2 separate regions of the Homo sapiens genome follow, and region 1 is linked to region 2. Evidence: fine-mapped expression QTL. Tissue or cell type: monocytes. Region 2 holds a variant in brackets; the other region holds the start of a gene. All regions are shown on one strand. Distances are between the middles of the regions.

The links. PIP is the estimated chance that this variant, and not a neighbour inherited with it, causes the effect.
Region 1: it holds the start of PRR5L, and the variant in region 2 is fine-mapped to the expression of PRR5L in monocytes (TOPMed, PIP above 0.99). The same link has a PIP of 0.9 or more in monocytes after Pam3CSK4, monocytes after R848, neutrophils and whole blood.

What each region holds. Positions count from the first base shown.
Region 1 is chr11:36,294,398-36,300,329 of GRCh38, forward strand. PRR5L (proline rich 5 like) reads left to right here and starts at 1,891. Exons shown (of 9, transcript NM_001160167.2): 1 at 1,891-2,041.
Region 2 is chr11:36,388,343-36,396,607 of GRCh38, forward strand. All of the region lies in intron 1 of PRR5L (proline rich 5 like), which reads left to right. Among named protein-coding and RNA genes, the nearest start is that of PRR5L, 96 kb to the left of the region's middle. The variant T/A (reference allele first, on the strand shown) is at 4,042.

The DNA of each region.
Region 1 (5,932 bases), 95 kb before region 2:
GAGATGAGGGTGGGTTGCAGGGGGAAAGGGCTGATCAATCTTTTTGACTTTATGCCCCCTTTGTGGCTTTGACGTGGCCTGATCAGCTCACCAGTCGTCTTAGTCCATATGGGCTAATATAACAAAATACCATAAACTGGGTGGCTTTATCAACAACAGAAATGTGTTGCTCATAGTTCTGGAGGCTGGGAAGTCCAAGACCAAGGCATTGGCAGATTCTATGTTTGATGAGGACGGTTTCCTGGTTCACAGATGGTGTCTTCTCACTGTGTCCTCAAATGGTGGCTGTGGGCAAGGGAGCTCTCTTGGGCCTCTTTATAAGGGCACTAATCCCATTCATGAGGGCTCCACACTCATGACCTAATCACCCCCCATAGGTCCCACCTCCAAATACCATCACCTGGGGGTGAAGATTTCAGCATATGAATTTGTGGGGGACGCATACACTCAGACCGTAGCGCAAGTTGGGGACAAAAGCTCTGAGTGTCAGCAGGGTTGCACTGGCTTGGAAATGCTGGAAATCTGGAAATTTCCAGATCAGGCATCACAAACTGCATGATCTAGGGCTCACATTGCATTAACAATGTTGTGTTTGGTCCACAGTGTTTCAAAATTGGAAAACTCGACATAAAAAATCCAGCCTTCTGGCTTTTCTTTAAAAATGTGCAGGCCCAACCATGCTGTTTCCACCTTTCTGCATTGCAGTATTTGGCTGAGGCTGAGCCCTGGCTGCCCTCTGAAGACTGGTGTGAGCTTTCAAATCCCCACAGTTCCCGCCACACACTGTTGCATCACAGTGGGCCCTCTCCACACATTTGTCACCTGTCTCATACTTGAGAATATTTATTAGTGCCCAATTCCTTCAGGGACCTAACAGGGTGAACTTAGGCCATAGTAGGTAACAGGGCTAAATACAGACACTTGGGATCCTGGCTTTCCAGCCATCCCCATACCATCTCCTCATGAGTACAAGCAAGTTTCAGGTGTAATGTGGGCATCTAATTTGTGATTTGTGGTTCTTGATCACTTTTATGGGCCAGCCACTGTTCTAAGAGTTTTGCATATATTAATTCATTTAATCCTCCTAGGAACCCAATCATAATCCCGGTTTACAGATGGGAAAACTAACACCCAGAGAAAACACTTGCTCACAGTCCATGGGTAATAGTTGCAGAGTCAGAATTTGAAGTCAGGAGCGAATGAGGTCATTTTGCAAGGTTGCTCATGACCTAGTGTCTGGTTCATTATGGGGGTTCAGTGGGTGCAAGCTTTATAATATTCATCTAGTCTTGCCAACTGCTGCTAACGTGCTGCATGGCTGAGGTTTAGTCCCAGCCAGATGTCCCATCACAAAAGTTAGGCATTGAAGTGGATGACATTTGTGTTTAGAGAAATGATATGTCTCATTCTTTTCAGCTCTAACTTGGGGTAAGTTTCTGAAAGCAAGTAAGAGAAAAGGAGAGGGACATTTGTGATCTCTCATGTATAGAAGACTAACAAAGAGGCAGGTGGTCACACCTGAAGGCACGTCCCCTGACCCTTATTACATAATGCCATGGGCTAAATGTCCAAAATTCCTCTCCCAGCTCTGATTGGCCTGGCTACTATGATGAGTGAAGTCCACCAGGGAAGACACTGTGGCCTCGTTTCTCATCCTCCTGTCCCCAGGAGTAACACAGAAGCAGCTAGTAACACAACAGCATTGTCCTCACATACACAGGCCTGCTTTGTTTCCCCACCACACAGAGCAGCCGCTGTAACAATGGCCCCGAATGACACTTTACCCTCCTTTCTCCAATGTTGCACTTGTTTTTTTAGTCTGGAATGGGCTAAACAATGATTTCCTGCAGGGGGTATCAGCTTTTTATATTTTCTGCCTGCTTCTCTGTCAGTCTTCAGGCCCCAGGTCAGTGAGTGGCAAGCCAGGCCCAGAGATCTCTGCGCCCGTTGGAACATCCCCTTCTCGGGAGGCTGGAAGGCCATGGTCATTCACCTCTCCCCAGCAAGGTGGGACCTGCCCTGGAAGAAGAAACCAGACCAGGTAACACAAGAGAGACAATGAGAGCTTGGGGCTAGGGGGTGGGGTTGCAGGGGATGGCTGAGTATCCAGCCCAAGGAGGATGGGTTTCTGGCTTCAAGACATCCGATTTTCTTGAAAGCCACCATCTGCTGTTAAATAAATAATGAAAAGCAACAGAGGTCAAGTTCAGCAGCCTCCCAGTTAGAAAAATACCCTCTGTCTGTCTGGCCCTGTTCAGTGCCTCTGATATCTCTGGGTGACCAGGGTCTTCATGGCCCATGTAGATTTACTGAGGTGGCTGTTGCCTTAATAATAGCTGCTAGTACTAAGCTCTTTCTCTATGTATTGCATATGTATACCTATTACTGTATGTCTCTCATTGAATGAATAGTAATGATAGCAAACCCTTATACAACATGCCTCAGATTCTTGCTTCTTTCAAACCCAGGGAGTCGGGTTCTAGAATCTGCGCTTTTCGTCATCATGCCCCTTGTAAAGCATTTTTTTTTACAACATCCTGCTAATAAACCAAGGTCATCACAATATTTCACTTTGAGAGGCAATGATATATGATGATAGCTATGTGTATTGTGAGTCCTTTGCCCTGTGCCAGGCAGCATTCTAACTGTTTTGCAGCTATTTCATCAGATAGATACTTTATGATCTCTATTTTATGGATGAGGAAATTGAAGTACGGATAATTTAAGTCATTCACCCGGGGTCACACAGTTGTTAAATGGCAGAGCCTGGATTTGAATTCAGTTTTCTCTTAAGTAGTATGGGAATCTTAGACCCGCCCAGCCCTGCTGGTCTGGAGTTATTCTGCTTCTCTAGGTCATGGTGTATAGAGGGTGACATTCAGTTTCTGGCTTCATAGAACATCTGCACCCAAGTTGACAGCTTAAGGAATTTTTTCGTTTGTTTATTTTAAATGATTTTTCTATTGGCATCAGCTTTTGTCTTGCTTGAAGAAGATGGAATTGCTCAATGACGACAGTGAAGGAATTTGAAAGGGTAAGAATTGCTCAATGAGTGGTATCTCTTTTTTGGCCAGAGACCAGGCTAAGTTGCCTCATATGTAAGAGAACATACGTCAAATACACAGGACTCATGGTATATTATGGAAGCAAACTTTATTTTTGCCTATCATTGTCCCTAATTTTTTTCAGCAGGTCCTCCCTCTTCCCTTGCCCTGGGATGAAAATTAAGGTAGGTCCACAACTCTTATGGGCCCCCTTCAGGAATCAAAAGTTCTTAAGTCGCTTTTAGTTCCAGCACAGCCTCATTCAGCAATTGGGATGTCCAGTCCCAGGGAATCAGCCAGATCTTTGAATTTGGTTCCCAGTGGAGACTTTTCTCCCTCCTCCAGTGGGGCCTGCAGCTTGGAAAGGGGGTCTGTGGTTGGCTTCTCATTTCCCACGTTAAGCTTCCATCCTTCTCTCCTCTGGCTTACTGATGATTCTGACTCCTGGCAGGGGGAAGGGGAAAAGAGAAGAGGCAGGAAAGGAGCTGGAAGTCCGTACTTGGTTAATGCTGTGGCAAGCTGGCATTTCAGTGGCAGGTTCTGGTGGGTGTGTAAACCTAGTTCTTTCTCTCTAGGCACAATCTTGTGGATACTTCAGAGAGCACCATTATTTCTCATCTTTGGGGATCTCTGAGTTGCTGGTCCCTTGAAGCTGGTTGCCTAATAAGACTCCTTCCTTAGTTCCCTGGCATCTAAGCAGTGCCGTATTAGTTTGCTGGGACTGCCATGACAAAATATCACAGACTGAGGGGCTTAAACCAGCAGTCCCCAATTTTTTTGGTACCAGAGACCAGTTTTGTAGATGACACTTTTTTCCACAGACCAGGGTAGGGATGGTTTCAGGATGATTCAAGTGCATTACATTTATTGAGAACCTTATTTATATTATTATTACATTGTAATATATAATGAAATAATTACACAATTCACCACAGTGTAGAATCAGTGGGAGCCCTAAACTTGTTTTCCTCCAATTAGACAGTCCCATATGGGGGTGATGGGAACCAGTGACAGATCATCAGGCATTAGATTCTCATAAGGAGCATGCAAACTAGACCCCTCACATGCGCAGTTCACAATAGGGTTTGTGCTCCTATGAGAATCTAATGCTGCTGCTGATCTGACAGGAGGTGGAGCTCAGGTGGTAATGTGAATGATTGGGAGCAGCTGTAAATATGGATGAAGCTTCGTGCTCTCTCTGTCCCTGCTGTGTGGCCTGGTTCCTAACAGACCACAGACCAGTACTGGTCCATGGCCCGGGAGTTGGGGGCCCCGGGCTTAAACAACAGAACTTAATTTTCTCCCAGTTCTGGAGGTTAAAAGTCCAAGATCAAGGTGTTGGAAGGTTTGTTTTCTCCTGAGGTCTCTGTCCTTGGCTTGTGGATGGCCACCTTCTCACTGAGTTCTCACATGGTCTTTCCTCTGTGTGTGCATTCCTGGTGTCTCTTGGCATGTGCAAATGTCCTCTTCTTATAAGGACAGCAGTCAGAGAGGATTAAGGCCTACCCTAAGGGGTTCATTTTAACTTAATCACATTTTTAAAGGTCCTGCTTCTAAATGCAGTCACATTCTAAGGTCCTGGGGGTTAGGGCTTCATCATATAAATTTTGGGAGGATAGTTGAGGCCACAACAAGTGCTGTCAGCTTTTCTCTGAAGGTAAATTTCCATTCCTCCTGGTGGTCCTTGTCAGAAGGACCTACACATCCCAGAGGTTGGCCACAGTACATCTCTGGCTTATGGAAAATGCTCGTTTCATTATCCCAGGAAATCCAAAGCTACCACGTTCTCTCCACTCCAGCTGATCACTCCATCTCTCTTGTATTTTGGGATTCACAGACATGATTCAGACATCAGCCCTCAGTGACAGTCAACCTCCAGGGACACAGCATCTTGGAGGCCAATCTTGGAGGGTGGGTAGTGGGCAATTGGGACTTGGAGTGCTCCTATTGCTTTCTCCAAAATTCCTCCTCTACACCACCAACTGTTCTTCTCACCCAGCTTTCTTTGTGGGCTGAAGATGGTCAGTTAAGAGGGAAACCAGTTTCGTGCCACTTCTTTTGTCAGCCCTGCATGATGGCCTCAGTGTCACAGCTCACTTTGAAACATGTCTTTTGTCCTTGGCAATACCTGAACTGAGACCATAGTCATTTTTACATCCTGCTACACAAATAGCATCTCATTTAGTTTTCATAAAGAACCCTAGGAGTTCTTCTGCATATGGAAGAGGAATCTGGAGCTCAGAAAGGTTAACGAATTCACCCAAAAGAGATTATTCAGCGAGTGGCGGGGAGGGGAGTAGAGATTCAAGCTTTAACCCACTTCATTATTTACTTCTCTGGGCCTTCATCATCCAGGCTTCTTAGAGCTTTTACCTACTGGAGTTTGGTCTGTGCTGCTAAAATGTTTTCTTCTTAGCAGAAAACTATAAAGGTAAACAACAACAACAACAACAACGACAAACACTTCATCGCTGCTTGCACCACTTGTGATGCAGGGGCTGGCAACAGGAGTGACAGGTGCATCAGGAGCTTTCTTAAGTATGTTGTGAGATGAGCTCTGTGTACCCAGGAAAGTCTTTGACTGCTTGAAAGTCCTCCATCCCTGCCCCACTATAATTTAATCAGCAGAATAATGAAGTACAAGTGAAATATCTTTTTTTTTTGTAGAAATGCATAAAAGCAATTCTGTTAGTCTGTTTTGTGTTGCTGTAAAGGAATACCTGAGACTGGGTAATTTTTAAAGAAAAGAGGTTTATTTGGCTCACGTTTCTGCAGGCTGTACAAGCATGGCACTTGCATCTGCTCAGCTTTTGGTGAGGCCTCAGGGAGTTTTACTCATGGCAGAAGGTGAGGGGGGAGCATGTCACACGGTGAGAAAGGGTGCAAGA
Region 2 (8,265 bases):
AGAAATCATATGACCTTTATTTGTTGTCTTCCTTTTGGGGAAAGGAGGTTAGGGGAGTCACTATTGCCTTTACATTTATTTATTTGAAGAAGTAAGGCATTTTCATGTTTCTGAATTCAAAAAGTCCAAAAGGGCTTATAGAGAAAAGACTTCCCTACTGTGTCGCTGCTACCCAGCTCCTTGCCCTAGGGGAAACCAGTGTTATCTGTTGCTGGTTTGCCCTTCCAGAGACATTTTACGCACATGCAGTGAAAAGGGTAAATGCTCTTTTTAATCCTTTTTACATAGATGGTAGCATAATGTACACGTGGCTCTGTGTTTAGCCTTTCTTTCATTCAAGGTCGGCTCTTTCTTTCTTTTTTTTTTTTTTTTTTGAGACGGAGTCTCGCTCTGTCGCCCAGGCTGGAATGCAGTGGCGCGATCTCGGCTCACTGCAAGCTCCGCCTCCCGGATTCACGCCATTCTCCTGCCTCAGCCTCCGGAGTAGCTGGGACTACAGGCGCCCGCCACCAAGCCCGGCTGATTTTTTTGTATTTTTAGTAGAGACGGGGTTTCACCGTGTTAGCTAGGATGGTCTGGATCTCCTGACCTCGTGATCTGCCTGCCTCGGCCTCCCAAAGTGCTGGGATTACAGGCGTAAGCCACCACGATCGGCTCAAGGTCGGCTCTTTCTTAGAGCTGCATCACCTTCCAGTATATGGGACACCATAGTTTACATATGGCCAGTTCCCTGTTGGTGAGCACTTATTTCCAGCTCATTGTTGTTATAAAGAAGGCTGCAGTAAAAACCCATGTTACATAAGCCACTTGACGTGCCTTGAATAAAATTCTTGGAAATACATTTGTTGGTCAGAGGGTATGGCCTTTGTCACTTCGGTAGATCTTGTCACATTTCCTTCCACAGCAGTCAATTCAGACTGCTCTCCCTCCAGCCATGCGTTCAAGTGCCTGTCTCCCTCAACCCCACCACCCATCACCTTGCAAAGCCTAAGAGGGTTTTGTGAAGAACACAATGTTGTATAAAAATATTAATACTAACTATAGCTTTTTGCGCCCCTACTCAGGGCGAGGCCGTGATCTAGGTTATCTCATTTTCATCTTAACAACGTGCACATAAGCATTACAACCATTTGACAGACAAGGACACTGAAATTCAGAGCCTATGAGGAACATACGCAGGTCATCCAGCTAATAAGCTGTAGAGGCTGGATTTGAAGCCAAGTTAGTCAGATTTCAGTACCATGGTGTTTACCCATGGTGAAGCCCCATGTATTTTTTTTTTTTTTTTTGGTAGAGTTTTGCTCTTGTCACCCAGGCTGGAGTGCAATGGCACGACCTCGGCTCACTGCAACCTCCGCCTTCTGGGTTCAAGCAATTCTCCTGCCTCAGCCCCCTGAGTAGCTGGGATTACAGGCGCCCGCCACCATACCTGGCTAGTTTTGTATTTTTGGTAGAGACGGGGGTTTCGCCATGTTGGCCAGGCTGGTCTCGAACTCCTGAGCTCAGGTGATCCACCCGCCTTGGCCTCCCAAAATGCCCATGTAATTTTAAATGTTGATGTTCTGAGCCGACACCTGCTTATGGTTCCTGTCTCTCAGCAATGATGCCTCACACACAGCTGGCTCATTTACTCATTCAGAGAATATCTGTGGAATTCCTGCTTCACTAGGCCCTGTGCTAAGCCCTGGGGATGTACCTGAGAACATGACAGACAGTGCCTGCCCTTATGGGCCTCACAAACCTATAACAAATAATTCTGTAGTCATTTATTAAGGCAGATTATGACAAGACGACAAAGGAGGTGGGGAGGGTGCTCTCTGGGGTGGTGGAACCTAATCAGGGGTGAGGAGAAAGGAGGGTGTCTCTGAGCAAGTGAAGGTGGGCTATAAAGGGGGTGCAGGTTTGAACCTGGAGAGTTGGGTGGGAAATATTTCACATAGAGGCCACAGCACATGGAAGGGTCCTGAGGTGGGGCAGAGCAGGTGCTGGTGGAAGACATGAAGGCAGGCCAATGAGCAGACTTCAGAGTGGTGAGAAGTGAGCCTGTGAGGATGGAGTTTGTGAATTTATTCTAAGACTTGTGGGGAACAGTTGAAGGCATCGCAGCAAAGAGTGACATAAGCGTTGTGGGCTATGGACTGTTGGGTTCTAGTTCCAGCATCGTTTCTCATGAGATGTGTTACCTGAGACAAGTTAAACACTCTGTACCTCCATTTGCCTTTCTGTAAGCTGGGGCTGGTAATAGCACCTGCCTTCTGGTGGTTGTAAGATCAGACACAGGTGCTTCCAAACAGGTGCTTTCATGTAGTTTTGAGTGCCATATGAGGTATGAAATAAATGAGGCATTTTAACCCAGTAATCATGAATAAATTTATTTTCTCCAAATGTGATGCACTCCGATATTTTCTATTCCATTTCACTAAAAGTCAAGACCCTCTAAGTTCATTTTTAAAATGCTGAGATAATACATGTCAAGTGCCCGCCTCACAGTTGGCAGTCAGTAAATGGTGCTATCATGATCATCAAGGTTGTCATTAGAAAGACCATTCTGACTGCAATTAGAGAATGGATCAGTTGAGTTTGACCGATCATTATCTAAATCCTGGTGGTGTGGAAGGACATTGGGTCATTCCTGTGTTCATGGTCCAGGGAAGGATTTGCACGCTGGGCTTTCTGACTGCAGAAGCTTCCGAGGGTTGTGTGTAAAAGAGGCCATCTCTCTTGTTTCCGTGGTAACTAGTTTCTCCTTGTTTTCCAGGCAGGCACATCAGATGGCATGGCTGTTTTCTTTGACTTCTTTGTTACTTACACTCAGAATGGCTTTTTCCTGGAAGCCTCAGAGTTATTATAAGCCACCCACTTCTTTATTTTAAGTTGTTGGGCCATGATTCTACTTCCCTTTTCAGAGTCAAAGGTTGGAGCCCTAGTGGAATTCATTTGCATTTTCCACTAAGTGCAGCATCTTCCTCTACCCACTGCCCCAGCAGGCAGGGCTGTGCCCCATCTCCATGCCCTGGCGTGGCAGCTGTGAGGAGAAAGTGAGATGACACATTCTTTTTCTCCTAGAAACACATCTTGGAAGTTTTTGATGAAACTCATATAAGCTGAGTGTTAGCAAGGCCTGTGATACCTCCCAGTAACCCTGTAACTGCCACCGAATTTCCCGGACCCAGGGCCTGGGCTTTCCAGATAACTGAAGTTAACCCTTTCAGCACCAAAACTTTTAAGTTGCTTTTGAAGGGGATTTTTCTTAATGTAAATGGCATTGGTCCTTCCGAAAGAAATATGGACCAAAATTCTAGTTTCTCTAACTTGGAGACATTGGGCATAGAATATTTCTTTTAATTTTTAATTTTTGTGGGTACTTAGTGTGTATATTTATGGGGTACATGAGATATTTTGGTACAGGCATGCAATGCATAATAATCACATCAGGGTAAATGGGGTATCCATCACTTCAAGCATTTCTCCTTTCTTTGTGTTACAAACATTCCAATTATATTCTTAGTTATTTTAAAATATAGTTGACTGTAGTCACCCTATTGTGCTATCACGTACAAGATCTTGTTCATTTTACCTAACTATATTTTTTTACCCATTTAACATCCCCCCTTCCTCCCACCACAACTACCCCTTCCAAGTCTCTAGTAACCATCATTTTCCTGTCTCCGTGAGTTCAATCATTTTAATTTTTAGCTACCACAAATAAATGAGAACATGTGAAGTCTGTTGTTCTGTGGCTGGCTTATTTCACTTAACATAATGATATCCAGTTCCACCCATGTTGTTGCAAATGACAGGATCTCATTCTTTTTTATGGATGAAGAGTACTCCATTATGTACATGTACCACATTTTCTTCATCCATTCGTCTGTTGATGGACACTTAGATTGCATACAGATTTTGGCTATTTTGAATAGTGCTGCAATAAACATGGGAGTGCAGATATCTCCTTTGTATTCTGATTTCCTTTCTTTTGGGTATATACTCAGCAGTGAGATTGCTGAATCATATGGTAGCCCTATTTTTTGTTTTTTGAGG[T/A]ACCTCCAAACTGTTCTCTATAGTGGTTGCACTAATTTACATTCCCACCAACAGTATATGAAGGTTCCCTTTTCTTCACATCCTCACCGGCATTTGCTATTGCCTGTCTTTTGCATAAAAGCCATTTTAATTAGGGGGAGATAATATCTCATTGTAGTTTTGATTTGCATTTCTCTGATGATCAATGATGTATTAGTCCATTTTCACACTGCTGTAAAGAACTACCTGAGACTGGGTAATTTATAAAGCAGAGTTTTAATTGACTCACAGTTCCGCATGGCTAGGGAGGCCTCAGGAAACTTACAATCATGGGGGAAGGCAAAGGGAAAGCATAGTGACAGGAGAGAGAGACAGAGAGCAAGGCTGGAACTGCCACACACTTTAAAACCATCAGATCTCATGAGAACTCACTCACTTTCATGAGAACAGCATGGAGGAAACTGCCTCCATGATCCAATCACCTCCTACCAGGTCCCTCTCCTGACACATGGGGATTATAATTCAACATGAGATTTGGGTGGGGACACAGAGCCAAACCACATCAAATGATGTTGCACATCTTTTCATATACCTGTTTGCCATTTGTAGGTCTTCTTTTGAGAAATGTCTATTCAGGTATTTTGGCCATTTTAAAATCAGATTATTATATTTCTTTCCTATAGAGTTGTTTGAGCTTCTTATATGTTCTGGTTGTTAATCCCTTGTCAGAAGGATAGTTTGCAAATATTTTCTCCCATTCTGTGGGTTGTCTCTTCACCTTGTTGATTGGTATCTTTTGCTGGGCAGAAGCTTTTTAGCTCAATGTGATCTCATTTGTCCATTTTTGCTTTGGTTTCCTGTGCTTGTGGGGTATTACTCAAGAAATCTTTGCCCAGTCCAATGTCCTGGAGAGTTTCCCTAATGCTTTCTTTTAGTAGTTTCATAGTATAAGGTCTTAGGTTTAAGTCTTTAACCTATTTTGGTTTGATTTTTATATATAAGATAGGGGTCTAGTTTCATTCTTCTGCATATGAATATCCAGTTTTCCCAGCACCATTTATTAAAGAGACTGTCCTTTCCTCAGTGTATGTTCTTGGCACCTTTGTCAAAAATTAGTTCACTCTAAATGTATGGATTTGTTTCTAGGTTCTCTATTCTGCTCCACTAATCTGTGTGTCTGTTTTTTATGCCAGTACTATGCTGTTTTGGTTACTACAGCTCTGTAGTATAATTTGAAGTCAGGTAATGTGATTCCTCCAGTTTTGTTCTTTTTGCTCTGGAGACTTTGGCAATTCTGGGTCTTTCATGGTTTCATATAAATTTTAGGATGTTTTTTCTATTTCTGTGAAGAATGTCATTAGTATTTTGATTGGAATTGCATTCAATCTGTAGACTGCTTTAGATAGTATGGACATTTTAACAATATCGATTCTTTCAATCAGTGAACATGGAATGTCTTTCCATTTTTGTGTGTGTGTCCTAGAAGAGGCAATTCGGACATAAAGAGAAACATCAAGGGCATGAGTGCACAGAGGAAAGACCATGTGACGGCATGGCTACAAGGCAGCCATCTGTAAACCAAGGAGAGAGACCCCAAAGGAAATCAACCCTGCTGACACCTTGATCGTGGACTTCTAGCCTCCAGAACTGTAAGAAAACAAATTTCTGTTGTGTAAGCCATGCAGCCTGCTGTATTTTGTAATAGCAGTTTGAACGGGCTAATACAGGGGTAGTACTAATGGAGGCAATAAAAGAAACCATAGGTAGCATTTATCAAGCACTTGCTGTGTTCAAGGAGTATTCTAAGCCCTACTTGAGTCATCTCATCCAATATCTTGCAAATCCTAAATCACCTGCTCAATGCCCCACAGGAAGTGGTGACACCAGCCTGACTCGGGTGCCTTTTCTCTCAGCCTCCACTGCACCTGTGTCTAGCACCTATACAGTTCCAGGAACCATGCAAAGTACTTCATAGACAATCTTTCTGGTCATCACAGCTCTCCAAGGTAACTCTTCCTATTCTCACTTTTCAGATGTAGAAACTGCAGCTCAGAGATGTCCAAGGTCACACTGTGAGTTTATTGGTTTCTTGTGGCTGCTATAACAAATGACCACAGCCTTCATGGCTTCAAACAACAGAAATTTATTCTTTCATGGTTCTGGAGGCCATAAGTGCAGAATTAAGGTGGGGCAGGGCTGTATTCCCTCTAGGGGGGAATCTGCTTCTTTTCTCTTTCAGCTCCTGGTGGCTGCATTACTCCAGTTCCTGCGTCTGTCTCCATATCACCTTCTTCTCTATGCGTGTCTGTGTCTTCTCCTCTTCTGTCTCTAGTAACTTCTGCATCCCCTTTATAAGGACACATGTGATTGCGTTTATGGCCCACCTGGATAATCTGGGACCAGCTTCTCTTCTCAAAATTCTTATCTGAATTGCATCTTTTGCCATATAAGATAATATTCACAGGTTTTGGTGACAAGTGTATGCATCTTTGTGGGGGGTGGGGAGATGTTTTTCTGCCTACCACAGTGAGTGAATGGCAAAGTGACCACTGATTTTAGGGTTTATCTGCCCCCAGAGCTCTGAGTGATACACATTTGTGGCTGTACATCCTTCAGAGCTATAAGCATTATACTTCTCAACATCTTTTCTGCAATGCTATTTCTAGGCTCTGGTGGGGGTGGGTATTGGAGTCATAACTAAGAATTTCTGGACCCTTTGATTCAGAAGTTCCATTGCTGAGAAGGCACCTTACAAACATGGTCATGTCATCCCGAAGACCCACAGATTCGCTCATTCTTTACAGTAACCACAAAAGGGGAAACTCCCTAAATATCTACCCATAGGGGACTGGTTAAATAAAATGTAATATCTCCTAAATGGAATAGTCAAGCTACCATTAAACATAATAAAGTAGATCAATATGTAGTGATATGGGAAGATGGCCATGACGTGTTATTAGAAGGAAAGAAAAACATTACTCATTCTTAGGATATTAATAAGAATGTGTGTGTACACATGTGTGCAGCTATTAACAATTAAATAAAATTAAAATTCAGTTCCTCAGTTGCACTAGCCACATTTCAAGTTCTCAATAGCCATATATGGCTAGTGGCTACCATATTGGACAGCACAAATACGGAACATTTCTGTCATCTTGAAGTTCTACAGGATAGAGCTGCTCTATGCTAAGTGGCTAGAAAGAGGCCTTTCACTATGTTTGTTATAGAGTTATGTGAATGCTTATGTTTGTTATAATAAATGACCAAGTATGCTATTATCAGAAAAATAGGGGCACATAGAGTTTCCAAGGTAACATTCTATTTCTTAAGTAGGTACTAGTTCATCATTATTTATTTATTAGTTATTTTTTTTAATAGAAACAGGGTTTTGCTTCGTTGCCTAGGGTGGAGTGCAGTGACATGATCACAGCTCACTGTAACCTTGAACTCCTGGGCCCAAGCGATCATCCTGCCTTAGCCTCCTCAGTAGCTAAGAATATGGGCAAACACTACCATGCCTGAATAATTTATTTTTATTTTTATTTTTTGTAGAGACAGGGTCTCACTACATTTCCCAGGCTGGTCTCAACCTCCTGGGCTCAAGCAGTCCGCCCGCCTCAGCCTCCCAAAGTGCTGGGATTATAGGCGTGGGCCACTATGCCTGGCCTATTATTATTATTTAAAATGTATGTTTGCGTGTGTATAAACTTTTAAAGTATGTTTCATAATGAAAATATTTTGAAATATATAGGAAAAAAGAAAAAAGGAATCTCCTGGCAGGCTCAACAGTGAGCCAGGCGTGAGTCTGGGACACTTCCGGCCGGGGCTGAAGCCCTGACCTGACAGCTTTCCAAGCTTGGCCAAGTCAGGCGCCTGCTCAGGCCTCAGTTTCCTAATTTGTGACAGACTGTCTGCTCCATCTGCCTTACAGGACTGAGGTAAGACTTAGAAGCACACCATGTGTAGAAAAACACTTTCAAACTGAGGAACTTGCTACACAGAGATGTAGGGTCAGTAAATAAGGTCATGAGTTATTAAAGGGCTAAGGAGGCAAGCCTGGGTGCACTGTGATGGGGATGGCGGCTCAGAGGACTTGTCTGCTCCTCAGTGGAGTATTTCCAGACGCTACTGCGTCACCAGAAGCAGAGGGAGCTGCTGTTGTATTCCCACTGCTATCATGGCTTGGCAATTTAGAAATAACTACGACAACATGATTTTATTTATTGAACGAGCTCTTATGTAGCA